4 linked regions of the Homo sapiens genome follow. The protein of the gene in region 4 interacts with the protein of the main gene of each other region in a pairwise test. Each region holds a gene or a part of one and is shown on either strand. Other genes may lie near its edges. The genes, in order: USP32, MGRN1, LRSAM1 and TRIM74.

What was found.
Region 1: the proteins of TRIM74 (region 4) and USP32 interact in a two-hybrid assay, tested with the Homo sapiens proteins (one large-scale study listed by BioGRID).
Region 2: the proteins of TRIM74 (region 4) and MGRN1 interact in a two-hybrid assay, tested with the Homo sapiens proteins (one large-scale study listed by BioGRID and IntAct).
Region 3: the proteins of TRIM74 (region 4) and LRSAM1 interact in a two-hybrid assay, tested with the Homo sapiens proteins (one large-scale study listed by BioGRID and IntAct).

The regions. Positions count from the first base shown.
Region 1 is NC_000017.11:60,205,125-60,213,416, reverse strand, and holds part of USP32 (ubiquitin carboxyl-terminal hydrolase 32), read left to right. Parts: intron 1-1,318; coding exon 1,319-1,393; intron 1,394-1,902; coding exon 1,903-2,041; intron 2,042-2,298; coding exon 2,299-2,404; intron 2,405-3,873; coding exon 3,874-4,047; intron 4,048-4,588; coding exon 4,589-4,763; intron 4,764-5,206; coding exon 5,207-5,358; intron 5,359-6,284; coding exon 6,285-6,396; intron 6,397-7,758; coding exon 7,759-7,970; intron 7,971-8,292. UniProt on the Homo sapiens protein: Deubiquitinase that can remove conjugated ubiquitin from target proteins, such as RAB7A and LAMTOR1.
Region 2 is NC_000016.10:4,684,503-4,692,794, reverse strand, and holds the end of MGRN1 (E3 ubiquitin-protein ligase MGRN1), read right to left. Parts: intron 6,537-8,292; coding exon of another isoform or gene 6,496-6,536; exon of another isoform or gene 4,000-6,495; coding exon 3,887-3,999; 3' UTR 1,823-3,886; downstream 1-1,822. UniProt on the Homo sapiens protein: E3 ubiquitin-protein ligase. Mediates monoubiquitination at multiple sites of TSG101 in the presence of UBE2D1, but not of UBE2G1, nor UBE2H. Plays a role in the regulation of endosome-to-lysosome trafficking.
Region 3 is NC_000009.12:127,493,010-127,496,509, forward strand, and holds part of LRSAM1 (E3 ubiquitin-protein ligase LRSAM1), read left to right. Parts: intron 1-2,310; coding exon 2,311-2,409; intron 2,410-2,954; coding exon 2,955-3,086; intron 3,087-3,500.
Region 4 is NC_000007.14:72,961,049-72,969,340, reverse strand, and holds part of TRIM74 (tripartite motif-containing protein 74), read left to right. Parts: 5' UTR 1-56; intron 57-2,387; exon of another isoform or gene 2,388-2,508; intron 2,509-3,165; 5' UTR 3,166-3,183; coding exon 3,184-3,582; intron 3,583-7,895; coding exon 7,896-7,991; intron 7,992-8,292.

The sequences.
Region 1 (8,292 bases), on a different chromosome or scaffold from region 4:
ACTCTTATGTAATCCTACCATACAATTTAGATTGCTTTAAAGGGAAAATATTCTGTTTTTAGTCATTGACTGACAAAGAATGGGAATGGTAGATAAAAAACAAGTGAATTCAGTTTACACATTTATAGTTCCTTAAAATTTTCAAGTTGCTGCTTTGAGTTTGAGTAAAAAGAACAACTTTCTTGCATAGTTAGTAGCACAGGCTTTCATTAGTCACCAACATTGGCTACTCACTGACAGAGCTATTTGTATATTCATAGATTTACACACTGGCATGCACATGCCATTAAAAACTTTTTAAGTGTATCTTTTCCCATCAAGTTTTGTGGCAACATTGTTAGCTGCCTTTGTATTAAAATGAATAGGCCGGGCGCAGTGGCTCACGCCTGTAATCCCAGCACTTTGGGAGGCTGAGATGGGTGGATCACTTGAGGTCAGGAGTTCCAGACCAGCCTGGACAACATGGTGAAATCTGTCTCTGCTAAAAATACAAAAATTAGCTGGGTGTGGTGGCACGTGCCTGTAGTCCCAGCTACTCAGGAAGCTGAGGCACGAGAATCAGTCAAGCCCAGGAGGCGGAGGTTGCAGTGACTCAAGATCACATCACTGCACTCCAACCTGGGGGGACAAAGCCAGACTGTCTCAAAAAAAAAAAAAGGAATAAATTACTCTGACAGTTGTTACAATTTAAGAAAGAATTGTAATTTCTAATGTTTTAAGTATAAGAAATTCCATTGTTTCTGAACTTTAATTACTTCTGTAGATGGTTGAGTATAATTTTACTTCAAGTAGGTAATTGAGGGATAAGATTATTCAAACCAAGTGACTTTAAAGTCCTCAATATGAAGAGTAGGAATGGTTTTAGAGCCAATTACAGGCATGTGCTGCAAAAAGATGTTTGTCAACAAAAGACCTGTATACAGCAGTGGTCCCATAAGATTATAATACTGTATTTTTAGTTGTGCCTTTTCTATGTTCTAACATGTTTAGATACACAAATACTTACCATTGTGTTACACTTGCCTACAGTATTCAATGCAGTAACATACTGTACAGGTTTGTAGCCAAGGAGCGACAGCCTATACCATACATAGCCTAGGTTTGTGTAGGTACACTCTGTGATGTTCACACAAAGACAAAATCACCTAATGATGCATTTCTCAGAATATAACCTCGTCGTTAAGCAATGTATGTACTAAAATTAACTAGATTTTAAAACTTCTGATTTAGGAATAAGATGTCTTTAAAAAAAAAAAGCAATCGAATGGGTATAAATTAGATAGATAAGAAATTAACACATTCCTATCTGTCCTTCCAGTTCGCAACAAAGATATGAGTTGGCCTGAGGAGATGTCTTTTATAGCAAATAGTAGTAAAATAGATAGACACAAGGGTAAGTCTCCAGTATTATTTTTTAAAGAGATTATTTTAAATGTATTCTTTTTTTTTCTTCTCTCAACTGTTAAAGTGCTAACAACTTTTGGTTTTCTAGTTCAAAAGTAATTAGGGCCTTCTTCTTTTTCTTTTTTCCTGAAGCAGCATTTGATGTTGGCAAACCCACCATCAAATTATTTTCTAAATTTCTTTCTAACTCTGCAATTAAATAATTTATATGTTTTAAAAGACATACTAGAAGAAGAATTGTTTGAATTATTTTGAAAAATCATAGCAATTAAAAAGAATAATTGCTGCTTCTGGGTTACAAATGAGCATGGATCATCACTGTTGCCAGACACTCCATGAAAAGCCTTCTCTAGCATTTCAGAGACCTGCTAGAGAATTATTAGCACCATTTAGCTGATTATGAGAGTTATAAAAAACCTTTTCATTGAATATAAGTAACTGTTTGTGCCATGGCATATTACTACAGCTAAGCTTTGGTTCTCATATTGTTTGTTCCAGTTCCCACAGAAAAGGGAGCCACAGGTCTAAGCAATCTGGGAAACACATGCTTCATGAACTCAAGCATCCAGTGTGTTAGTAACACACAGCCACTGACACAGTATTTTATCTCAGGGAGACATCTTTATGAACTCAACAGGTAATCTTTCTGGAGTCACTGGCCTCTTAACCTGTGACTTTGATATAAACCCAATATCACCTAAATTTCCTCTTTTTTCACCCTGTGGGAGAAAGATTTTATCTTATTTGCCCTATTTAATATGAAATAGGCCAAGGAATACATCTCTTGTTTCAAAAAGAAAAGATATTTTGATGTGAGATGCTAGGCATTTTTGCGCCCACATGATTGTGATTTATGAGAATCTTTGGCAACAAATTTTCCTCTCAAACTTCTAGGACAAATCCCATTGGTATGAAGGGGCATATGGCTAAATGCTATGGTGATTTAGTGCAGGAACTTTGGAGTGGAACTCAGAAGAATGTTGCCCCATTAAAGCTTCGGGTAAGCAGGTTAAAATAATATAAAAGTATTTAATTCCTAATAGTTGTTTAATCATTTTTCTCTGCTTGTTTTTTGTGTTTAGCCTTTTAACTTAATAAATGTTTTTGGATCCTTCACTTGGTATAAACAAAAGGTCAAATTCTTTTGCTTGTTTAAATATATGCAAAATTACTACTGTATATGTAGTGGGTAGGATAAAGACCAAAGGTACACTCTAAATTCGGGATGTCATTCATTTTACTAATTTGTCAAACATCTTATATGAAGAGTAAACCTTTTTTGGTAATACTTCACTATTAGCAGTATTCTAACTGCAAGGTGGACCTCAGAGTCTTATTAATTACATCCAATCCAATCCATTTTCAACGTAACTAAGATAGTTCTATCTGTAGAATACAAAGAAGTAGGCTGGGCGCAGGGGCTCACGCCTGTAATCTCAGCACTTTGGGAGGCCGAGGTGGGTGGATCACTTGAGGCCAGGAGTTCAAGACCAGCCTGGACAAGATGGCGAAACCCTGTCTCTACTAAAAAAAATTAGCCGGGCATAGTGGTGCATGCTTGTAATCCCAGCTACTTGGGAGGCTGAGGCACGAGAAACGCTTGAACCTGGGAGGTGGTGTTTGCAATGAGCCAAGATCGCACCACTGTACTCCAGCCTGGGCAACAGAGTAAGACTCTGTCTCCAAAAAGAAAAAAAAAAAGTAGAAGGATGAATGAATGAAACTAATGAATATAAGTTTTATATTAATATCAGATGTAGTAGATTTTAGTGAAGTTAGGATTATTCATTATTTTTATTTAAATACAAAGCAAAAGCTTTTTATATTACAAATTATTAACTATAACAGCTACACATTTGACTACTTACCTCTTGCCAGGCACTATTCTAATTAATTTATATCCTCAAAATAATTCTATAATATAATGCAGTTAATAAAATTTAGGATGCAACAAGACCAGAAAATGTAATTGTTGAAGACAACATTATATTATATAAAATAATGTATACACATATTATTTTATACATGTTATGTATTATTATATACACATTATTTTATGCATATGTTATGTATATACTATGTACCTATAAAATATACATATTTTATATGCATATAAAAATGTAAAACGTTATAGAACAGGATGTCTTTCAATGTGAGCAAACGCTGTTTTAATGTTTCTGTCTTAAATAACATCTGTGTGCCTGAAGAACAGTTTGCTTACATAATACTGAACTGAGGACACAGTATTGCACAGTATTGGCCAAAATACTTCTCTTTTTTTGGGGGGGGTCATTTGACATTAAGATTCAAAAGATTTCATGATTATCCAAAATATATTTGTTGAAATAGAGGCAGACTAAGTACTATACTATTTATTTTCTTACAATGGCTCTGATTGGATTATAGGACATGTTCATTCCAAATTTTATGGGTAGGAAATAATGACTGTGACTTCTCTTATATTTATAGTGGACCATAGCAAAATATGCTCCCAGGTTTAATGGGTTTCAGCAACAGGACTCCCAAGAACTTCTGGCTTTTCTCTTGGATGGTCTTCATGAAGATCTTAATCGAGTCCATGAAAAGCCATATGTGGAACTGAAGGACAGTGATGGGCGACCAGACTGGGAAGTAGCTGCAGAGGTTTGTCAGTTTTGAGTTTCTAATGTAAGCAATAGACAAAATGTTCTGGCCACAAATACATGTAGCACAACTTAAATGCAAACTCAACTATTCTGAGATCAGAACTTTACTGCAAAAATGAATGAATTTCTATTTCTGTGCTTAATTCTTATGCAATAATGCCAAAACAAAAATACGTTTAATGAAAATAGAAAACTGTTGCCATTTCATATTGTAAACTTTATGGGACTGGATGTAGGAATAATTATCCAGTGGAATTTAAAGAGTCCCCGTAATTGCTAAAGTAATGGATACAGTGACCTATAGGCATGCTTTATACTTGTTAATGGACAAATAACTTTAATATTTACCATTGTTACCTTGATAAGAACAAATGAAAAATAGGATTTTCCATCTCAATTTAATATTTTATGTTAAATGAAGAGTAAGGATTATATTCTTTACATTTAAATCCAATATATTTAACTAGCTTCTTTGAATTTATATAGAAATGCTTCTCTTTTGGATTTTGAGAGAAAATTCTCATCTTTTTTATTGCTAGGCCTGGGACAACCATCTAAGAAGAAATAGATCAATTGTTGTGGATTTGTTCCATGGGCAGCTAAGATCTCAAGTAAAATGCAAGACATGTGGGCATATAAGTGTCCGATTTGACCCTTTCAATTTTTTGTCTTTGCCACTACCAATGGACAGTTATATGCACTTAGAAATAACAGGTAGGTCAGAAAGTTCTGAAAAATTACTTGACTCCATTAAATTTACTTTATTTAAATAGCCTGAATTTGTAAGCATAGTTATTTGTTTACAAATAAAGACCGGTAGTCAGCATATTATAATTGAGCAACCTAATTTTAGGCATGACTTGAGGTTTGAAAGATGTAGACTGGGGCATGTTTTTTTGGTTTCAAATATGCCAGCAACTCTCTTTAAAACCCTGCAAAGCCACTGATACTTTTATGTCAGATGAACACCAAAAAAATACTGATTTCACTTAATATTATCCCTAAGTACCATCTGTTTTAGTGTTTACACATAAAATAAAAATTCTAGGCTGAAATATTTGCTATTATATTTACAGGTCAGATATATCTGTACACAGCATTTAAGACTTTCAATGAAACCTGCATTTTACCAATAAAAGATCTTTTCTCTTTACTAGTGATTAAGTTAGATGGTACTACCCCTGTACGGTATGGACTAAGACTGAATATGGATGAAAAGTACACAGGTTTAAAAAAACAGCTGAGTGATCTCTGTGGACTTAATTCAGAACAAATCCTTCTAGCAGAAGTACATGGTTCCAACATAAAGGTAATATTAACTACTCTAAGAAACTTTTGATTCTATCCTCCAAAGATGACATTTTTCTCAATTATTATGATCAATTGTTAGGTTATGTGACCAAGAGAGATACTAAAACATAACGAAAACTGAACAACAACAACAAAAAATGCCAAGTTTTCCAACCCAGAAACTTAAGAGTTTTCTACCAGAATAAAGGGATAATACTGATGGTGGTATTTTTGAAGAAGGGAAATACGTAAGGCTGCCTATATGGAGTGTTCTAGCTGTGTCACTATAGTATAGGTTTCCACCAAAGACTGCTGCTGTTACCAAAGACTGCTGCTATTACCCTTGACAACTCTTCTGTATTACCGCTGTTACTAGAATTCTTCCTAGGTTAAAGTATTTTATGTATTTATGAATGTGTGTTTTTAGTATTTATGAATATATATACTTGGTCTTTTAACACACTAAGAAATTAAGAGTAAAGACAAATTGACACCAATCATGTCTTTCTACATACCAGCTGGGGAAACAAATAATCTAATAAATATATTGCCTACTCTAAATTAAGCTCCTGCAACTGGTATTATTTATATTCATCTTTGGGATTTCTGAACACACTCTCACCTCACTGACAGTTTCTTAATATGAAATGCAAAAATGGAGTCTCTGAGGGTTGGAATTTAGATCCCTGAAACGGACAAAACTGAAGTCAGTCGTATATAACACACTTCTTCCTGTGAAAAGAGATAATAGTTCGAAAATTGAGGTTAGTTTTCCGTTATTTTTATCAAGCATTCATCCTTTATGTAGTTGAAAAATTATTCAATCATCTCGTTGGTTTTACGGATGAAAGCGCCTAAGACATTCTTTTGAAATATGTTAGAGAGAGAACTTTTCCATTTTATCTGAAACATCTCCCCCTTCTCATCTTGCTTCTGTTTCTGTAGAACTTTCCTCAGGACAACCAAAAAGTACGACTCTCAGTGAGTGGATTTTTGTGTGCATTTGAAATTCCTGTCCCTGTGTCTCCAATTTCAGCTTCTAGTCCAACACAGACAGGTAAGATAGAACTAGAACTCCTTCTCATGATTGCTCCTTTAAATATTTGTCTAAGAGTTGTCATCTTTTTTATATTTGTTCATGCTGAGGATATTATAGCAGAAGAATTTTGGAACCCAAGGGAAACCTTACTGATTATTCCATATTTTTTCGACGAGAAACCTAAAATTTAGAGAACCCAAGTGACTTCAGTTAGATAGGTAGTCGTTAGCTAATATACCCTTGGAATTCAGATCTCTTTGAACTTGTATCTAATATAACATGGCAACAGCTAGTATGAGAGGAACATACTACCAGAAAATATAAACAATAGATATAGCTAGAAAGAAATCCAATATTATATGTAATTTAATGTGGTCACTCACTGAGTCCTTTTAGCCACTAGTATGCTTTGTCTATTCTTTATATTACTTACAATTAGGTTAATTAGGCTAATTCCCCAACTATAAAGGGCTTTATGAGGCTCCCCTCATTGATGTGTAGTAGGTAGATAGTCCTGACGGTGAGTTGGTGGATGTTCTAATTTTAGTTTTAGTTTAGAGCATCACTGTCCAATAGAATTCTGCAGTGGTGGAAACTTCTGTGATCTTTGCCATCCAATACAGTATCCACCAGTCACGTGGACTGTTAAGCGCTTGAGATGTGGTTAGTGTGAGTGAGAATAATGCATTTTTAATTTTTATTTAATTTAATTTATTTATTTTGAGAAATGGTCTCACTCTGTCACCCAGCCTGGAGTGCAGTGGCATCATCTTGGCTCACTGCAGACTCTGCCTTATGGGCTGAAGCAATCCTCCCACCTCAGCTTCCCAAGTAGCTGGGACTACAAACGTGTACCACCATGCCCAGCTATGGTGTATCTTTTGTAGAGATGGGTTTTCACCATGTTGCCTAGGCTGGTCACTAGCTCCTGGGTTCAAGGGATCTGCTACCTCAGCCTCCCAAAGTGCTAGGATTACAAATGTGAGCTGCCTCATCCAGCCTAATTTAAATTTTAAATGCAACATCTGGGTAGAGGTTACTGTATTGGACAGTGTCTTCAAAGGCAAAGAGAAGGAAAAGAAAACAAGTGGTAGAACTGTTTGTGTGCTACAACATGGTGCTGATACAGGTTTCTGCAAAAATTCTGCTTAATAGTTTCCAGCAGTTACTCTTTCCTTTTCATTTGGCCAAAAGTGTGAGTTAGGGAAGTAAAACTGGAAAATTAAAATCTTCCAATAAATCTAGAATTATTTATACTGTGATTTCTCCCTGCCCTGTGTTAAGAGACTACACTGTCTCTGGTCCTCAGGATACTTGAGAAAAGAGCAAAGATGAAAATACCACAAGCTTATGATACTGTACTTATCTTTGAATTTGTAGATTTCTCCTCTTCGCCATCTACAAATGAAATGTTCACCCTAACTACCAATGGGGACCTACCCCGACCAATATTCATCCCCAATGGAATGCCAAACACTGTTGTGCCATGTGGAACTGAGAAGAACTTCACAAATGGAATGGTTAATGGTCACATGCCATCTCTTCCTGACAGCCCCTTTACAGGTTACATCATTGCAGTCCACCGAAAAATGGTTAGTTAAATGTTAGGCAACTCACTGCCAGTCTTGCTAGTGTCATTTGTGAAATAGTCATTTTCTGTCTTTGCAACATCATTGAATGTATTTTCTTCTCTTCTTTTCTTTAATTTTTTAAAATTTAATAATTTTACAAATTTTATTTTTTTACTTTTTTATCCTGTCCTCAAAATCTGTTGCTGTGAATGCATTTTCAATGTATTATATATGCTAATATAAGTGATCAGAGCCAGGATTTAGTATTACTCATGGTGGCTAATGTATGAAATGACATTCCTTATCCGTATATTAAGAGGCAACAGGATAGTCAGTGCATCTG
Region 2 (8,292 bases), on a different chromosome or scaffold from region 4:
CTTGTGTTTGTACTGGAGATGTCTCTGGGGCTCAGAAGCATCCGAAACAGCCCAAGGCAGAGCGAGGTGCCCTGAACTCCATGATGGCAAGGCTCACCTCACCAGCAGCAGGGCCCAGGGCCACTTTCCTCCCCACCAGGGGAATGGATTTGCTGAGCACATGAACCCCCCTGCCTGCACTCACAGCATGGGTGCCCAGGGCTGGGGCACAGCCTCGGGAGAGCCGTGCAGTGAGGCCGAGCTCGCTGGCACAGAGAAGGCTGCCTTCAGTGGAGGCAGGCAGGAGAAGAGAGAGGGAGAGGGTGGGCATTGGAAACTCACCTGTTAGGTCCGTGGTGGCCTCAGATGTGGAGAATAAGGACCCAGAGAGGGCACCTCTCTCTCCTCCTGTGGCCACCAGTGGGTCAGGGGTCACATGGGACAGCTGCAAGCAGCAGGGGAAGTCCAGATTCCAGAGTGAGCGACCATGTGAGAAGGCGAGAGGGCAGCGAGGGGAAGGGTCCTCTCACCCAAAGAGGGCCCCACCCCTAGGCAGCCAAGCCCAGCCAGCGCCCAGGGCCCGTGGGACGCAGGGGCAGAGGAGGAGAGGCTCCCCTTGCTGCAGCCCCTCCCCGAGACCAGACATCAATACAAGCGCTGGCTCTTCTGGGAGGTACAGAGGGGGAGCCCATCTGGCCCATGCAAGCACCCGTCTGACACCCTGGGCACCCCTCTACCCACACTGGGATGGGGCCAGACCCAGGCAGGTCAGAGCAGCTGCAGGGCCCATGGGTGGCAGCCTTCTCGGGGCAGGGACTGATGGGCTAGAACACGGGCTTTCCCTCCACCCTCACAGTCTTCAAAGAAGGGCCATGGTGGCAGCTTGACCTGCACGCAAAGGAGCTGGGGCCCTGAGTGGTAGGCAGTGGTGTGGTGGGTGCCCTGGGGCACTGGCCACTCCCTGGGCAGGGGAGCGGGGGCTGTGCAGAGGCCTGGGGCCGGGCTCCAGCCTGCGAGCCCACAACCATGGGCAGCTAGACCTGCTCCCACCGTCCGGCCTCCACACGCCAGCCGCAGGGTGCTAGCACTGCTTCTCCGCTTGGAAGCCTGTTTTTAAAACTGACTCCCCCTTATAAAAACACTCCAGCAGCCCCTACAAGCTCTTCAGTATCTATCCAGCACCCTTCACTCCAGCCAGGGGCTCCGTCCCCAGGGGACACATCAGGCTCACTCCTGCCACCTGGAACACTCTTCCAGGGCCAGCTCCTCCTCAGCCCTCAGGGCTGTTTAAGTCTCCTCAGAGAGGCCCTCCCTGCCACCCGGTTAAATGAGACCTTGTACGGGTTCATCTCACCACCATGCTGACTTTCTTCCTAATAGTAACCAAACCTGGCAGGATTCTGATTAGCTGCTGGGCATCTCACTGCCTGGAAGGCAGGCGCCCGGGGCCAGGGCCGGGGCCTCAGCTCTTCTGCCTCCACTGACGCACAGCAGGTGCTCAGCAAATGCCTTGAGATGATCAGGACTAGAGATGGGGACCGGAGCGACTACTCACAAACCTGGAGGCCCTGGGCTCCCCAACCACCTGTTCACGAGAGAGCCCAATCTGGAGGGTGTGGCTTCCCTCCAACCAGACAACTAGCCCTGACAGGGATGGCTGGGAGCTGCCCGTTCTCGTTAGCCCTCACCTTGCTCACTGCCCTGACCCCAGAGGGAAGCCAGGCAGAGGCCGTGGAGCTGCCACGGTGCGGGAGCCACCGCCAACCACCCAGCGGCAAAACTCCGGGTCAGGAAACAGCCACAATCCTGAGGGCTGCACCCGGAGGAAGGAGCAGACAGGATATTGCTGCATGATTTTATTACTATAAATATACAGTAAAAACGAACCAACGATGAGCCCATCTGAGCACATCAGACGGCAGCACATGGGAGTCCCAGCGGGCCACTCTGCGGCCCGAACTTCACGCAAAGCTCTGGCACCAGGACTGATGGCCAGAGGCTGGGGCCTTGGTGGGGGCGGGGGGCGGGCGGTGCAGGGGGCTGTGTGTGTTGTTGGGGAGAGGTGCATGGGGGGAGAGAGGTGCTTGGGGTGGGGTAGAGGTGCGTGGGAGATGCTCGGTCCGAGTGCACACACATGCATGGGAACATGTGCAGGAGTATGTGCGTGTGTGTATGCGTGACAGCATGTGTGAGCGTGAGTGTGCATGTGTGAACATGTGCGTGAGCATGTGCAAGTGGGCGTGCATTTGTGTGTGTGTACGTGTGAGCGCATCTGCGTGCCTGTGCACGAGCGGGAGGGGTGGCTGGCCTGGGTGTGCAGGGAGCTGGGTGTGAGGACCATGCTGTCCACTGCTGGGTCTCGCCCAGGAGGCGGACCTCATGCTCGGAGCCACCGTGAGCCTCAGGGAGGGTACTGAGCTGCCCCACAGCCGACCTGTCCCCAGGCCCAGCTGCAGGGCAGCCCTCCAGAGCCAGGTGAGCAGCAGACACCTGCCTGGCCCAGGGCTCCGCAGGGGTGGATCCAGCCCTGGGTCACCAGGCCCAGGCACTCCCTTTGCCATCTGCGGCCCAGGAGGTTTACCTTTAAAAAAACAAACAAACAAACAAAAAAAACAGGACGAGGTCGCCCAGAGGCCAAGCCTCCCGGCCGGGACCCCATTCCCCAGGTGTGCTGCTGGCTTCCTCCTCCCTGGGCCAGTCCTGCCACAGAAGCCTGAGACAGAACAAACCAAATCAGAGAGAACTGCAAGGGGGCCGGGCGCGGAGGCTCACGCCTGTAATCTCAGCACTCTGGGAGGCCGAGGCAGGTGGATGACCTTAGGAGTTTGAGACCAGCCCGGCCAACATGGTGAAATCCCTTCTCTACTAAAAATACAAAAAAATTAGCCGAGCATGCTGGTAGGCACCTGTAATCCCCAGCTACTCAGGAGCCTAAGGCAGGACGATCACTTGAACCCGGGAGGCGGAGGTTGCAGTGACCCGAGATTGAGCCACTGCACTCCAGCCTGGGCAGCAAGAGTGAAACTCCATCTCAAAAAAAAAAAAAAAGAGAAGAGAACTGCAAGGGGACATTCCAATGGCAAAAGAGAATGAGGAGGCCACCAGGTCCTCCCTGGCAGGGGCCTGCCAAACAGAAGCCCCTGCACCTGGAGGGGCCTTGTGATGTCACCAAAGCCAGCACCAGGAGGAGGTGTGGAGCTTGGTGACAAGGCCACTGAATGCTGGCTGCTGGAAGCAGCTGTGCCTCCGCCCCTCGGCCAGGCCCAGCACCGGGCTGAGACACTCTAGCTGCCCAGGGCGGCACCCATGCACCCCAAGGCCCCGAGCACTGAGGGCCCCAGCGCAGACGCACCAGGGAGGGCACTGAGGCCGCGCAAACACGGCAGAGGACAAAAAGCAGCGACAGCCAGGCCGCCACAGTGACACGCAGGGTGGGTGGACAGGCACTGTTTCCTTCATTGACCGTGCCTGGAGCCCCCCACTGCCCCTGAACATCTGTGAAGATGGTGCTTCGACCACCAATCAGTTCTCTTCTGCAGGCCTCCTGAGTTCTCCGGGCAGGGACCGCACTGTTGCAGGAGCAGGCAGAGCCAGCGGAGGCCACACGTGGGCAGCCCCAGCCCCAGCCGCTCAGCCCACAGGACCCTGGGGAACGGGGGCTCTGAACTAGGGATGGAAAGCTGCTGTCCTTCATCTTGTACCAGTTACAAATATATCAACTGTAGAAAAGGGAGACTCAGAAGGGACAGTTCACTGTGCTCTTTGATCAAGAGTCACCACGGCCCCTCGGAGCCTGGTGGCCACAGGGGGCATGCAGACAGGAGGCCGGCTCACAACGGGGTCCGGAGCAGCCCCTCGGCAAAGTCTGGGGAGCCGAGGGCTCCATGCTGCCAGCTCGGCCAGGCTCTCAGAGTGGGGTCAGCTCGGCGGCGCTGGGATCGGGGCTGGGGCCACCAAGTGGAGGCCAGGTGGGGCTGGTGGTGGCGAGGCCGTGGGCCGTCTCCATGGAGGTGGGCCGTCCTGCAGGTGGGAGCAGAGGGAGGAGGGTCACACTCGGATGCCTGGTGCCACGCCACCCGCTCCTACCGATCTGGAGCCCCAGAGGGGCTGGGCCATCCAGCACCCCCACTCCCGCCGCCTGTGGCCACAACAGCATTCACTCAGATGTGAGCACACCAAGGGCCCGGGGACTCCCTAACTGTGCCAAATACGCTGTGTCCCTCTTGGGACAGACGATCCCAGATCCCCGGACACCCACAGCAGATCTGCAGCCCCGAGTCAGAGCGCGACACGGCACCGCGGTGGATGCCCTCTGGGCCTCCTGCCCTTGCCCTGGTTCCGGTTTCCTGGGATGTGGCCAGCCACTGTCCTGCCAAGGTTCTTACGGCTGGGTTAGGGTGGAACTCGGTCAACCCAGGGTGCAGGGGTGGGGAGCGGCCCTGGGTGAGAACAAGCCCGTGCTCAGAGTAGCCCCCGGATGGCTACTGCAAGGCAAAGAGAGGAGCCTCCCACAGAGCCCCAATGCCCAGACTGTGGCCTGCACGACGCCGCCGGGCGCTGTCCCCAGATGGGTCTGGCGTCCCTGGGGCTTGGGCAATGGTGCTGGTGCAGAGCCTGGGACGGGGCCAGCATGGCCTCAGGGCTGCCTGACACCCAGCCACCAGCCCTGACACATGGCTCCCAGCAGACACGGCCCAGGCCCCACTCTCCGGTGAAGGGCGTCTATTTTCTTCGGGGGCCGCGGCGAGAGCAGGTTTCCGAGGCTGTGAGCCCTGTTCTAGATCACACCTGCACTCCCCAGCTCCGGAAGCTTGACCTGAATCGTGACATTCGCACGGCACCTTCCACCGATGCGCAGGCCGGGGCCGTCTGAAAGGTGCTGACTGTTTCAATCTAGGGGTATAATGGCTCAGGACAGGGGTCAACAGAGGGACTCGCTGGGCTCAAGAAGACAGAGGTTCATGGGAATGCAGAGCGCAGTCAAAAGAAGCGAAGTTCTCCCTGACCCGGCTCAAGTCCACCCAAGGGGAAAGGGCCTCTTAGAGCCTGCACCCCCGGCCAGGCACCTCCCAGCAGGCTGCATGGGCCTCGGCAGACCAGAGCTGCACGCAGCTTGTGTGCCAAGACCCTCTGGGAAGGCAGAGGGTCCCCAATCCGTCTGCCTACATTTTGGTGGCACTCCTGGAGCTGCCTTCTCTCTCTCCCCCGTGTGTGTGTGTGTGTGTGTGTGTGTGTGTATTTTTTTTTTCTTGAGACAGGGTCTCAGGCTGGAGTGGGTGGGTGGGTGTGTGTGTATTTTTTTTTATTGAGACAGCGTCTCAGGCTGGAGTGGGCCTTGACCTCCCCAGCTCCGGCAATCCTCCCACCTCAGCACCCCTGAGTAGCTGGGACCACAGGCACAAGCTACCACGCCCAAGCCAATTTTTTATTTTTCATAGAGAGGGGGTCTATGTTTTCTACACTGATCTTGAATTCCTGGGCTCAAGTGATCTATCCCCTCGGTCTCCCAAAGTACCGGGCTTATAGGTGCGAACCACTGCCTGGACAGAGCCGCCTTCTGTAAAACACTCACCTGGGCCACCCTGGTAGAGGGCGCCTCTTGGGGGGGATGGGGGATGCCAACCTCACAGGGCCTCCTATCTTTTAGTGCTGGTGTTCCAGAAGGTTCCAGTACTGGGAGGGACAGGTGAGTCGGCAGCAGTGGGCTCATGGCACAAAGGCAGCCCACGAGGGACTGTGTGCCAGGCCCATGGTGATGCCAGGCCCACGGTGGCCATGCTGACAAGGGAAGGAGGGAGCGGGGGAGCAGGTGGCTGTGTGAGCGGACGCCCTCAGGACAGGACGCAAGATACTCTCCCCTGGGCACCAGAGGGCCCCTCGAGGACGGACTCCCTCCAAGAGACAGGGACTGAGCTTGGGAAGACGTGATCCAGGGGCTCTCCCAATCGGGGCGCATTCTTTCCCCATGAATTGTTAAAGCCACGACCGGAACACGGGAGTGGACCTGCTGAGCGTCCTAACGTGTCTGCTGCAGGACCGATGCGAACTCATGGTGGGACCATCCGGAACAAGGCCAGGCCCAGGCCTCTCCCCTTGGGACGCTCACCCCATGTCTCCCTGGGGTTCCCTCCACGGTGCTGCCCTCATCCCTCAAGCTCCTGCCTCCCGCAGTGGACAGTGGCTCTGGCGCACCTGGGCTGTGTCTGTCTCCCTGCCTGGGCTGGGACTGTTCCAGGGCCCCTCAAGGCTGGAAGAAGAGCCTGACCGGCCGCCTAGTCCAGATGGAGAGACCTCTGGCCCCGAAAGTCAGGACCCCCCAGGAGGCCACTTTCTGGGGGAAGGTGCAGCAGCCACTGGAGAGCTCTGGATTCGGAATCCAGGGCCCCTGGGAAGATGCGGATGCGGACGAAGACCCAAAAACCAGAAGGAACCCCCGCCAGAGAGCAGGGGAGGGCTCCTCTCTCCAAGGACGCGCGTCAGAGCCCCCGAAGCGCGTCTGGGAGGTCACGTACCGGCTTACTCGTCTATACCAACAGAGCAGGAGTCGGGCCCCAGGGCTGCGCGGAGAGGGGGAGAGACAGACGGAAGCTCGGTTAGCAAGCGCGCAGCAGCCAGCACAGCCACAGCAAGGGCACCAGCTTGGGGACACGGTCGAGGCCGTCTAGAAACAAACACTCTGCTGCAACCACAGAGAACCACAAGGAGAACCACAGCTGGGAGGCAGAGCGCAGCCAGAATTCAACGCGGAGGAGCGCACTGGCCCTGCCCCTCCCTCCCATACCTCCCGCTGCCGCAGCCTAGGGAAGGGCGCATGAAGGACCTAACGGGCGCAGTCCACCTCTGGTTTCAGGAGTGAAGGCCCTGGGTGGGGGGCTGAGGCTAGACAGGACCGAGCTCAGGGCCAAGTCCAAGACACCAGGGCCCCCAGTGTTCACCATCTCATGGGCCCTCCCATCTACAGGGACAGCAGGGTTCAGTGATGCCGCCCACCCCGCCAGGCAGCGGCTGCACCCCTATGAGAAACCAAAGGCTCTGGCGTGTGTTCATGCCTTACGCACAGACACGGATAGACAGTCAAGGGCTCTGTGATGTGAAAAAGTCAGTGGAACAGAGGGGCCACCACATGGATTTAAAAACACACAGAAACCTGTGCTGACAAGGCTGACAGCCACGGAGATGGCGCCAAACAGCCCCCAAAGGCACATGTGCTCTCCGTGGCTCAGAACTGAGGCCGTGCAGGCTGACCTGCTGGCATTCAGCAGCAGCCAACTCCAAGAGCGGGGCCCAGGGCCCAGGAGTTCACCTCAGGCTGCCCCGATGTAGACTCGGCCTCTCCTCTACCGCCTCCACAGATGACGACTGCCTGCCCCCGTCTGTGGGCCTGAAGAAGGCCCGAGACCCTCCCCTGTGGGTGGGGCATGAGACTCGGAGTCCTGGCCTCCTCTGTGTGGGCCTCCTCTGTAGCTGTCCCAATCCTTCCCAGGCCTGGCCACAGAGGGGAGGCGCAGCCTCTGAGATGCTCCCCCACAGGGCCACCCTGCAGGATCAGATATCATGTTCGTGGCTCCCAGAAGCTGAGGTCCTTCTGGCCTCTTCCCCGATCACCCCCCAAGTTTTTAATCAGAATGAAATATTTGAGATCCTCTGAAAGACCTTACTCGAATTCTGTGTCACTTTAAGGTAAGCTGGTCCTAAACACACCTTCTGCTGTGAGTTGTTCGGGGCAGGCCGCTGTGGTCATCAGGGCACCAGAGGCAGTGCCTGCTCCTGCACCTGCGACCTGTCACGCCCAGCCCATGAGCACAGGCCACTGCTCAGCCAGAGTCCGGGGGCACAAGAGCCCCTTTCCAACTAAAGCACGTCACAACCACCCAATGTCAGGCCCAGGTCACCAGGTGACTCAGGAGGATTGAGCAATGGTGGGCCCTGGGGCCAGGAAGCGGGTGAAGCCTGGCAGCCGCGAGGGAAGAGCCACACTCCCTAAGCAGTGGCTCTGGGGTCATGTCTGAAAGCACCGTGGCTGTTTATCGCAGTTCCAGAGCCGCAGACAGCCTCGTGGCAGGTGCTGAGACACTAGTCTGAGAGCCCCCATTCCCTCCCGGTCTTTAGAGCTTAGGATTCGAAACTGAGGATCTTATCCCAGCAGAGCAGAGCACGAAGGTGCTTGGCTGATGGGGTCTGGGGCCCGAGCCTCCGGGAAAGGTGAGAAGAGCAACCCTCTGTCCCAGCCTTGCTGCCTTGCTGTTCCCCGCTGGCGCCTGGCGCCCCCGCCGTCCTCTGTGCCTGGCCTGGGATGTGCTGCTGCATCAGGTG
Region 3 (3,500 bases), on a different chromosome or scaffold from region 4:
ACTGGAAAGTACAAAGGAAAATAATTGCATTTCCAAGCGTTATCTCCTGCCATTTTTTATTTGTTTGTTTGAGACAGGGTCTCACTCTGTCGCCCAGGCTGGAGTGCAGTGGCGCAATCTCAGCTCACTGCAGCCTTGACTTCCTGGGCTCAAGCGATCCTCCCACCTCAGCTTCCCGAGTAGCTGGGACTACAGGCATGTGCCACCATGCCTGGCAAATTTTTTTATTTTTTGTAGAGATGGGGTTTCGCTATGTTGCCCAGGCTGGTCTCCAACTCCCGGGCTCAAACGATCTGTCTGCCTTGGCCTCCGAAAGTGCTGGTTTTACAGGCATGAGCCACCGCGCCTAGCCTCTCCTGCGGTTTTGATGCATATTTTCCAAACATTGTGATGCACCTTTATAGCTGTTCGTGTATGCGCCTTTTAAACGTGGCATGCTGCATACCCTTTTCGAGCAGCCTGTTTCCGCACATTCTTTTCAAGTCATTAAACTATTCCTTGACGTCCTTTCTCAAGGCTGTCCGTGGCCCCTATTGTTGAGTATGTGGATTACTTCTGGTTTTTAAACTTTTCTAGGCAATGCTCTCCGAATGCCTTTGTAGTCGAGTATTCGGGAACAGCCATGAGTATTCACTCCAGACAGGACTCACTATGTCCAGGGCAGGCCGTTTGATAAGCTTTTGGCAGGAGTGGCCCAGCTGTCCCTGTCCCCTGATGGGTTTGACACTGGCACATTTTCAGCGTGGCAGAGGCCCCCTTGAGAGTGTCTCCTCTAGACCCAGAGGGCACCCAAGCAATGAGGACAGAGGCCAGGCTCACCATCTGGGGTGGAAAAGACCGAGTCGTTCCTGTGTCCCCGTGAATGCACCAGATGCCCTCTGAGCTGCGTCCTAGGCCGGGTCCTGTGCAGGTTTAGAAGAGAGAGACCAGCTGCTTCTGGAGCCCTGAACAAGCCAAGTGGTGCCTGTGCCCATCAGAGGAAGCTGCCTGTTCCTCACGGTGCCCTACTGCCATCTCCTACGCATCAGGTTACTTTGCAGATGGTGCCTTGGCGCTGTGCCTTAGCAGCCAGGTACTATGGCTGGTGCCCCTGCCCTTGTAGGCCTTGGGGGTCACCACCAAAGGAGGAAGCACCGCCCCAGCAGAACACAGCCCATCCGGCTCCTGGGCGCTGGAAGAGAGGGGCTGCAGCCCGGGAGGGCCAACGACGGAAGGGAGCAGTGGGCGTGGCCAGGTCCAGGAGGGGCCCGCAAAGGGCAGTCAGGCCCAGCAGGGATTGAGAAACGCCTGTGTTGATCCCACTCCCCATGTCATGCCAGCCCTCACTGAACAGCTCCGTTGTTCTGAGCACGGGCTCTGGAGCAAGACAGGCCTGGGTCCAATTCCTGGCCCCACCCTGGGCAGGTTACTCATCACCCTGAACCTCAGCTCCCTCACCTGGGAGGTAGAATCTCCTTCCCGGAGTTGTGAGAATTAATGATGGCATCGTTAGGTGCACAGCATGGTCTGGCACATGGCACTGTGAACATGTCAGCTACGCCTGTTGTCACCGTGGCTGTTATCAGCATTGTTTGTTCACTGCTGTATTCCCAGCACCTAGAACAGTACTCAACGAAGAGTTATCGAATGGCAGAATAAAAGAATCACATTCAGGCTGGGTGCAGTGGCTCACGCCTGTAATCCCAGCACTTTGGGAGGCCGAGGTGGGCAGATCACTTGAGGTCAGGAGTTTGAGACCAGCCTGGCCAACGTGGTGAAAACCCCATCTGTACTAAAAATATAAAAATTAGCCGGGCATGGTGGCACACACCTGTAGTCCCAGCTACTCGGGCACTCCAGCCTGGGTGACAGAGCAAGAGTCCATCTCAAAAATAAAATAAAAGTACCAAGTGCTGTCCACCCGCTCAGAGGAGCATGGTTCATAACCATCATTTTGGTTTTGTTTTGTTTTGTTTTTTTGAGACGGAGTTTCGCTCTTGTTGCCCAGGCTGGAGTGCAGTGGCGCGATCTCAGCTCACTGCAACCTCTGCCTCCCGGGCTCAAGAGATTCTCCTGCCTCAGCCTCTCGAGTAGCTGGGATTACAGGCATGTGCCGCCATGCCTGGCTAGTTTTGTATTTTTAGTAGAGGTGGGGGGTTTCTCCATGTTGGTCAGGCTGGTCTTGAACTCCCGACCTCAGGTGATCTGCCCACCTTGGCCCCCCAAAGTGCTGGGATTACAGGCATGAGCCACCGCGCCTGGCAACCATCATTGTTATTACAGGTTTTATTACCATTTTGTGACTAACATTGCCTGCTTCATTCCTGGCAGACGGAGTTAGAAGCCAAAAGTGAAACCAGGCAGGAAAATTACTGGCTGATTCAGTATCAACGGCTTTTGAACCAGAAGCCCTTGTCCTTGAAGCTGCAAGTAAGGACTGCTGGTGCCTGTCCCGGCCAGGGAGCCCTGGGGACCTCCTCCCAGAGGCGCCTGTGGTGCCTCCACCATGCTCTGCCTCTTGTTACTTTTCTGGTGACTCTAGCATGCCAGATCCTGTGCCAAGCCCCAGTGGAGACAGAAGCGAGAGTAAGGGAGTGTTCATTCTGGTGAGGGGGACGACAAGGCACTGGTCACTGCTGTGCAGGGCAGAGACCACTGAGCCCACAGTAGAGCAAAGCCTGTGCCGGGAGCCACTGTCTGTCCAGCACCTGCGGGGACAGAGAGGCAGTTGAAACAGCCCCCTCTTGGTGGATGTTCAAGTTGCTTACTATTTTCAGGTTTGCAGACAGAGCGGCAGTGAACCCCTGGGCCTATCTATCTATCTATCTCTGTGTGCCTACCTATGAGTTTTTGTAGGAAAAATCCCGAGTACATTCTATGTATTATGTTATAAATATTCAAACCCTTCATTTCCTGTTGTAAACAGTGGGTTCTTTTCTTCCTTCCTGCTCATGGTACACGTTTCTGTCTTGCAGGAAGAGGGGATGGAGCGCCAGCTGGTGGCCCTCCTGGAGGAGCTGTCGGCTGAGCACTACCTGCCCATCTTTGCGCACCACCGCCTCTCACTGGACCTGCTGAGCCAAATGAGCCCAGGGGACCTGGCCAAGGTGGGCAGCAGCCGTCTGCATGGAGGGGAGGGGCACGCAAGGCCGCTGTCCTGACCAGCCGGGGGTTGATCTGCTCCTTGTGTAGTCCTCGTTGAGGCCTGTCCTTACCTAATGGCCCAGGGCCACCTTGCTTCCAGATGGCCAGAACACCTGCCCATCTGCCCCAGCCGCCTGTGTGTGCCCTGCACACTGTCTCACTGGGAAATCCTGGGGAGGTGGGTCCTGCTGACCTGATCAGACTGGATCTTCAGACTGGAGGGACAAGACAGGCCCTTGGGGCTTATCTGATCCAGCCTCTGCCCTGCCTCATGGTGTCACAAACTGTCGTGGCCACAGCACTGCCTGAGCCCCTGTTCCTTTCTGGGCACAAGCTGAGCTCTTTACAGCACATTAATCCACTTATTCTTCAAAACA
Region 4 (8,292 bases):
CATCTAACTGGAGCGACAGAGAGCACGATGGGGCACTTACAGGGGCCGGAGGCTGGGTACGTAATGAGAGCGAGCGGGAAATGATGGGGCACCTAACGAGCACGCAGAGCATGATGGGGCACGGGTGCGAGGTGGGGCGCACAGTGGGAGCGCGTGGGGCATGATGGGACACATGGCGAGGCCGTCAGGGCACAGGGGAAGCACTTTTGGAACACGTGAGTGACAGGGCTGCCGCCCTTGAAGGAGCCCTCGGAGTGGCTGCGTGGTGGGGCACGTGGGGCAGGTTCAGGAAAAAGGATGCAGCATGTGATTGCAGGGCAACCTGGTGAGGACACGAGAGCCACCTGCCACCAGCAGGGTTCAGGGCTCCCAGCTGTGGGTTACTTCCACCTTCTTTCACTTTCCCTCTTCCATTGTATTCTAGAGAATTTAGGCCCAGACAAGACACTGATTGATTGATTGATTGATCGATTGACAGAGGCTCGCTCTGAGCCCAGGCTGGAGTTCAGTGATGGATCTCAGCTCACTGCAGCCGCCACCTCCTGGGCTCAAGAGATCCTCCTGCCTCGGCCTCCCAAGTAGCTGGGATTACAGACGTGCACCACCAGGCCCAGCTAATTTATTTTTTAGTTTTTAATTTGCTGGTAAGATGGTTTGTAGCTTTGTTGCCTAGGCTGGTCTTGAACTCCTGGCTTCAAGCGATCCTCCAGTCTTGACCTCCCAAAGTGCTGGGATTATAGGCGTAGGCTACAGCCAACTTTCAATACTGCCCCATTGGGGGTTACGTTTCCAACACATGAAATTAGGAGGATACATTCAAACCACAGCAGTATATTATGACCATAATATTCATTAACTGTGTAACAGGCTGGGCGCGGTGGCTCACACCTGTAATCCCAGCACTTTGGGAGACCAGAGTGGGTAGATCACTCGAGGTCAGGAGTTTGAGACCAGCCTGGCCCACATGATGAAACCGCCTCTCTACTAAAAATACAAAAAATTAGCCGGTGTGGTGGCAGGCGCCTGTAACCTCAGCTACTTGGGAGGCTGAGGCAGGAGAATCACTTGAATCCGGGAGGTGGAGGTGGCAGTGAGCCTGATTGCACCACTGCACTCCAGCCTGGGCAACAAGAGCAAAACTCTGTCTCAATAAACAAACAAACAAACAAAACCTGTATAACAGAGTGTCATTGAATTTCTAAACGTTGAAAGACTTCACATTAAAAAAAAACTCACAATTTAATATTATTGAGTGAAAGAAACCAGACACAAAAGGGTACATTCTATATGATGCTGTTTATGTGACATTCAAAAACAGGCCACATGACAACATGGTAATAAGGACAGTGGCTGTCCTTGTTAGGAGTTATGACTGGAAGGAGGCAGGAGGGAGCTTTCTGGAAACACTGTACATCTTGCTCTTGAGAGTGCACGTATATACATCAAGTGTTTATCAAGCTGTGTGGTTAAGATTTGCACACTTGTATATGTTATACCTCGATTTAAAAAATCTAAATAAGTAAATAAAGATACCTTCAAATCTTTAAAAAAAAAAAAAAAAAGAGGCCAGGTTCGGCGGCTCACACCTGTAATCCCAGCACTTTGGGAGGCTGAGGTAGGAGGATTGCTTGAGGCCAGGAGTTCAAAACCAGCCCAGGCAACAAAGTGAGACCCCTGTCTCTACTAAAGTAAATAAAACAATAAAATAAAAAAAAAAATTCGAGAGATCGAACCATCATCTGCCAGTTTGTATTAGAAAAAAAGAGAGAGAGAAGGAAGACTGCGTGCAATAAGGCTCATGCCTGTAATCCCAGCACTTTGGGAGGCCAAGGTGGGAGGATTGCTTGAGCCCAGAAGTTGAAGACCAGCCTGGGCAACAAAGCAAGACCCGGTATCTACAAAAAAAATTTTAAAAATTAGCTTGGCATGGTGGCACGTGCCTGTAGTCCCAGCTACTCAGGCAGCTAAGGTAGGAGGATGGCTTGAGCCTAGGAGTTGGAGGCTGCAGTGAGCTGTGACCACGCCACTGCACTCCAGCCTGGGCAACAGAGCAAGACACTGTCTTCCCCTGCCCCCCAGCCCCCCACCCCCCCCAAAAAAGGATATAAGAGCAAGAGATTGAGATTCAGAAAGAACTGTTTCCCAGCACCTGTCTGCTCCTGTCGGGGTCGTGAGGTGTGGACAGTGTGCCTAGTCCCTCTGTTTCTGCCCCTCCTCCACAGTGGCCAAGGCCAGCACTTGAATGTTATCAGAGCAGGCCCAACAAAGGCTGCCTCCCCAGTCCTGTGATGTAACCCAGTTTCCACCTGATTCTGGTGACCTTGGGGACACAGGGGTGTTGCTGGGGAAGGGGAGGAGAGAAGGGGCAGAGACCAGGCAGTGGTGCAGGCGTCCAGCTGCACTTCCCACTTCTGACTCTGTGCCTGCTGTTCCCTGCTGGGAAGAAGAAAAGCCAGTGATGCTGGCTTGAGGCCATAGTGGGAGGCCCAGTGGATCCTGAGAAGCTAGGTATTCCAATGTCGGGCTCTCGCTGGGGGCTTCTGGTGCTTCTTCTGTCTCACTGACAAGCTTTCATAGGGGAGCAGGTGGGAGATCAGGGTAGAGGCCTTGTAGGTTCCAGGCTCTCTAGAATTACCTGGGAGTGTCACCTATAAGTGTAGAGTTCTGGGTCTCACTGGAGACCCCCTGAAGCAGATCCTTTGAAGGTGGGCCTCTAGAATCTCTATTACACCTATGCTTTCAACAGTTTCCTGAAAGTTTGGGAACTGATCTAGAAGGTGGGGAGCTTGCCTAGGTTTTGCTGTTCAGTTCTAGGTCCGGATGCATGCTGGGGCTGGACCTTGCATTATTAGTGTCACTGCAAATGACCCTGCAGATGGCCCCTTTCATGCTTGTCTCCAAATTTGAGTAAAAAATGTAGACACACACACACACACACACACACACACACACACACGTATCTTCAAGGGACCAGTTTTTTCACTGCAGTCTTTTGTTTTACAGCTGTGGAAACTGAGGCCCAAGGTCATGTGGGTTAGGACTGGGATCCAGGACTCAAAGTGTTTCTTATAAAATTCTGGTGCTCCTTAGGGTTGAGGGTGGTGGGTGAGTGCTGGACAGGGGGAGGGGAGTGGACAGGACTGAGGTCGGATGCCTGTGTTTCAGCCCGGGCAGTGAGTGTGGATGGCTTGGCAGGTGAGCCTGCTGGAGCTGGAGGACTGGCTTCAGTGTCCCATCTGCCTGGAGGTCTTCAAGGAGTCCCTAATGCTACAGTGCGGCCACTCCTACTGCAAGGGCTGCCTGGTTTCCCTGTCCTACCACCTGGACACCAAGGTGCGCTGCCCCATGTGCTGGCAGGTGGTGGACGGCAGCAGCTCCTTGCCCAACGTCTCCCTGGCCTGGGTGATCGAAGCCCTGAGGCTCCCTGGGGACCCGGAGCCCAAGGTCTGCGTGCACCACCGGAACCCGCTCAGCCTTTTCTGCGAGAAGGACCAGGAGCTCATCTGTGGCCTCTGCGGTCTGCTGGGCTCCCACCAACACCACCCGGTCACGCCCGTCTCCACCGTCTGCAGCCGCATGAAGGTGGGGAGTGAGGGTGCAGGCGGGGCGGCGGGGCCCGCGGGGACTGGATCCTGTGCTCTCTGGCGCTATCAACTGGCACCAAAACGGATCCAGCTATCCTCGATTTCCCTGCAGCCCTGCCCTGGCGCATTCATTCCTTAGTGTTTGAGCGGCAGCTAAACCCAGGTGCTGGGGATTGAAGCTACACGCACAGGATGGGAGCTCCCTGGTGTCACGTGCTCACCCCTTCCTGTTTTTTGTTTGCAGTTCTGGTTTGTTTCTTTTTCTTTTTTTCTTTCTCTCTCTCCCGCCCCCTTCCCTTCCTCTCTCTCTCTCTCCCCCTCCCTCGCCCGCCCCCCCTTTCTTTTTCTTCTTTCTTTTTGGAGACAGCGTCTCACTCTGTTGCCCAGGCTGGAGTGCAGTGGTGTGATCATGGCTCACTGCAGCCTCCAACTCCTAGGCTCAAGCAATCCACCCACCTCAGCCTCCCGAGCAGCTGGGACTACAGGTGCACACCACCATGCCCAGCTCATTTTTTATATTTTGTAGAAATGGGGTCTGGTTATGTTGCCCAGGCTGGTGTTGAATTCCTTGGCCTCCAACGATCTTCCTGCCTGGGCCTCCCAAAGTGCTGGAATTATAGGCATGCACCACTGCCCTACGCCCCTTGTTTGTGTCTGGACACTCCCCTGTTTGCACTCTCTGGTGCATGAGAGTGGGGACTTCATTTTGTCCCCTGGTGTATTTCAGTGCCTGGAGCCATGCCTGGCACATTGTAAATGTCCAAAATGCTGAATCAGTGAATTCCTGCCTTTATAGGCCATCACCAAACCTAGCAGATCATTCTTTAAGATGAGTAATAATAATACCTGACTGGGTGTTATATATATAAAACACCTGTTATAAAACACGTGACTGGGTGGCTTATGCCTATAATAACAGCACTTTGGGAGGCCGAGGTGGGTGGATCACTTGAGTCCAGGAGTTTGAGACCAGCCTGGGCAACATAGTGAGACCCTGCCTCTACAAAAGTTTCAAAATTAGCCTGGTTGGCCAGGCGCAGTGGCCACTCCTGTAATCCCAGCATAAAGCTGGAGGGAGCATGGGTGGGGGCGAGATAGGGCCAGCGAGGTAAGCTGCGGCTGGGGCATGGAGAGGCCAGTGTGACCCGGGAATGGATTTGGAGTTTATTCACAGGATGAGGGAGAAAGGCGGGGGCTGGAGTGTTTTAAGCCAGTGATGACATGCTCAGATCTCTCTGGCAGAGGGGAGCTTTGAGGGTGAGGCAAAAGGACAGTGAGAGATGAAGGTGCCAGGACCTAAGTTGGTGGGAACTGGGACAAAGGCCTGGGGCAGACCAAAGACAAATTTCAAACAGAAAAAAACCCTGACAACTGTGTGTGGCAAGGAGGGTGAGGGATGGGGAGGTTGACTCCAGCTCTGTAATTCCCCCTTGCACAGAGGAAGTGATCGCAGGGGAGGATCCGGCGTGGGCAGGTGGAGCGGGAGGTGCCTGGGGATGTGCAGTCGGGTTGAGGGGTGTGCAGACCAGGACAGCGGTGGGGCTCAGGGCAAGAGGTGTGGAGGGTCCTTCCTCTTGGTGGTCACTGAAGTCCCCTTTGGTGGAGAAGACCAACCCAGGAGAGTCTACATAGTGATAAGGGAAGACACTGATGATGACCCCAAGGGGTACCAGGCTTAAAATCTGGATTGAGAGAGAGAGAGCCCTGAAAAAGGAATAGAAAGAATCCTCAGAGCAGGAACACCGGCTGAGTGTGGCCTCCCGGAAATCAGAGAGACAGACTGAAGGAGGAGATCACGTGTGTGAAATGTCTCTGAGGACTGAAAAGTGTTAAATGTAGCAGTAAGAACTGATTATCTTGGCAAGAGCAGGTTTAGGGGAGTATGGAAGGTGGAAGCCAACTGCAGGTGAGGAAGCCGAGTTTATGTTTTATTAGTTGATGGGAAGGAGGGAGGGAACAGGCTGGGAGATTGTCTGTCCTTTGTAGTTAGGATCCAGCAGCTCAGCTTGGGTCCCTGTTTTAGATTTGGGCTTAATTTTTTTTTTTTTGGTAGAGACAGGGTCTCACTATTTTGTCCAGGCTGGACTCAAACTCCTGGCCTCAAGTGATCCTCCCGTCTCGGCCTCCCAAAGTGCTGGGATTCCAGGCATGAGCCACTGTTCCCGGCCAGATTTGGGTTTTGATGATCCCGAGGCTCTTCTCTGTTGCAACACAGAATACAACTAAATTGCACTCCTTTATTGCCCTCTTTAAGGTGTTCCCGTTGCCTCCTGTTTATTGAGATCTTGAGATGCTCGATTGATGGGTGCATTGATTTGCATAACTTAGTTCTTCTCACGGGGAAGGAATGAGTCCCGTCTGTCTGCCTGGGGAGGGTGACATTGGAATGCTGTTCTTAGGCCTCTGTGAGATGTTCTGATGCCTCATTCTCCAGAGCAAGGACTCTGTCCGTTTATGCCAGCAAGTGCTTGATTCTTTACCCAACTCCCTTCCTGAAAGCCCCTTGCAGCTCTCTGGTGCTTGGGCACGATCCAAGCCAAAAATTCTGTACATTGCATGGGTATAAACCGACGGGGGCTCTGGTCAAGTCATGGAGTAGATGGTGGTCCAGGAGTCCTGGTTGGCACCCCCAAGGCTAGGTCAGATTTGGGGCCCGGGCAGTCCAGGAGAAGTGCATTTATGTCAGCTTGGGGAGGTCGCAAATCCGTGCTGTGTCCAAGCCCACCAGGAATGGATTCAGGTGTTTATAGGTGTGGGGATTCACCAGGTTAAACCCAGGCCCGTGTGAGCACCACTGGCCCTAGAATTAGCCTCACCTGGCGCCGGCCTTTTTGTGATGGCTCCTGATTAAATACCCACTAATTCTGGATCTGCTGGTGACCACAGAGTTCACCTGATGGGTCCCCTACAGGCAGCATTCAATCCAGGAAGTGCCAGCATCACATGGTGACTTCTGGTAGCTGTAACATTTAGTGACTGTCTCCATGTCATGCACAGGGGTGACATCGAGACCCTCTTATGCCTGGGAAGTTCCTGCTGTCAATGCAGAATATTCTCTTTTTTTTTTTTTTTTTTTGAGACGGAGTCTCGCTCTGTCGCCCAGGCTGGAGTGCAGTGGGCGATCTCGGCTCACTGCAAGCTCCGCCTCCCAGGTTCACGCCATTCTCCTGCCTCAGCCTCCCGAGTAGCTGGGACTACAGGCGCCCGCTACCACGCCCGGCTAATTTTTTGTATTTTTAGTAGAGACAGGGTTTCACTGTGTTAGCCAGGATGGTTTCGATCTCCTGACCTCGTGATCCGCCCGCCTCAGCCTCCCAGAGTGTTGGGATTACAGGCGTGAGCCACCGCGCCCGGCCCAGAATATTCTTTGAAGAAAAAAAAAACATTAGAGATGGGATTTCACTGTGTTGCCCAGTCTGGTCTCAAATTCCTAGCCTCAAGTGATCCTCCCATCTTGGCCTCCTAAAGTGCTGGGATTACAGGCATGAGCCACTGTGCCCAGCCTAGAATATTCTTTTTTTTTTTTCTTGAGATGGAGTCTTGCTCTGTTGCCCAGGCTGGAGTGCTGTGGCGCAATCTCGGCTCACTGCAACCTCCTCCTCCCAAGTTCATGCCATTCTCCTGACTCAGCCTCCGGAGTAGCTGGGACTACAGGTGCCCGCCACCATGCCCGGCTAATTTTTTTTGTATTTTTAGTAGAGACAGGGTTTCACTGTGTTAGCCAGGATGGTCTCGATCTCCTGACCTCGTGATCAGCCAGCCTCGGCCTCCCAAAGTGCTGGGATTACAGGCGTGAGCCACCGCGCCCGGCCCTTAGAATATTCTTGAATTATCTTATTTTTTATTTTTATTTTTTGAGACAGAGTCTCACTGTGACACCCAGGCTGGAGTGCAATGGCATGATCTCAGCTCACTGCAACATCAATCTCCCAGGTTCAAGCGATTCTCGTGCCTCAGCCTCCCAAGTAGCTGGGACTACAGGTGTGTGCCACCACACCTGGCTAATTTTTGTATTTTCAATAGAAATGGGGTTTCACCATGTTGGCCAGGCTAGTCTCAAACTCCTGACCTCAAGTGAAGTCCCACCTCAGTCTCCCAAAGTGCTGGAATTACAGGCGTGAGCTACTGCGCCCAGACTATTCTTGAACAATTTAACCTGTTTTGGACTCAAGGGTACCTGGGTGGCTCTGGTTCCCGCCCTGGTTTCCCTGGGAGTGCTTGTGGCCATTGGGATACTCCCAAGAAGGTGATCCAAGGAGCTGAGAAGGGGAGGGATCAGCTGCTCATGGGGCCATGGCCTGTTGCCTCCAGGAGGAGCTCGCAGCCCTCTTCTCTGAGCTGAAGCAGGAGCAGAAGAAGGTGGATGAGCTCATCGCCAAACTGGTGAAAAACCGGACCCGAATCGTCGTGAGTGCCCCTTCCCTCTGCCCCTGCCTGGGACCGGCCACCTTCACTTTCCTGTAGAGCTCAGTTCTCATTGGTCCTTTACAGAAAACCATGCCTTCCATATAAAGCCAGAACTCAAAGCATTCCGGGGCGGGGTGGGGAAAGCGCAAATCCTCTCAGGGGAATTCAACCCAGTTGTCGTTAGGACTGGCTCCAAGTTGGCTTTTGCCCTCTGTGTCCTTGAGACTGAGATAACCCAGGACTTGAGTCTCGGGGGTAAACAGCTGAAAGCATGGGCGTGACTCCTCCGCCCCTGTGCCAC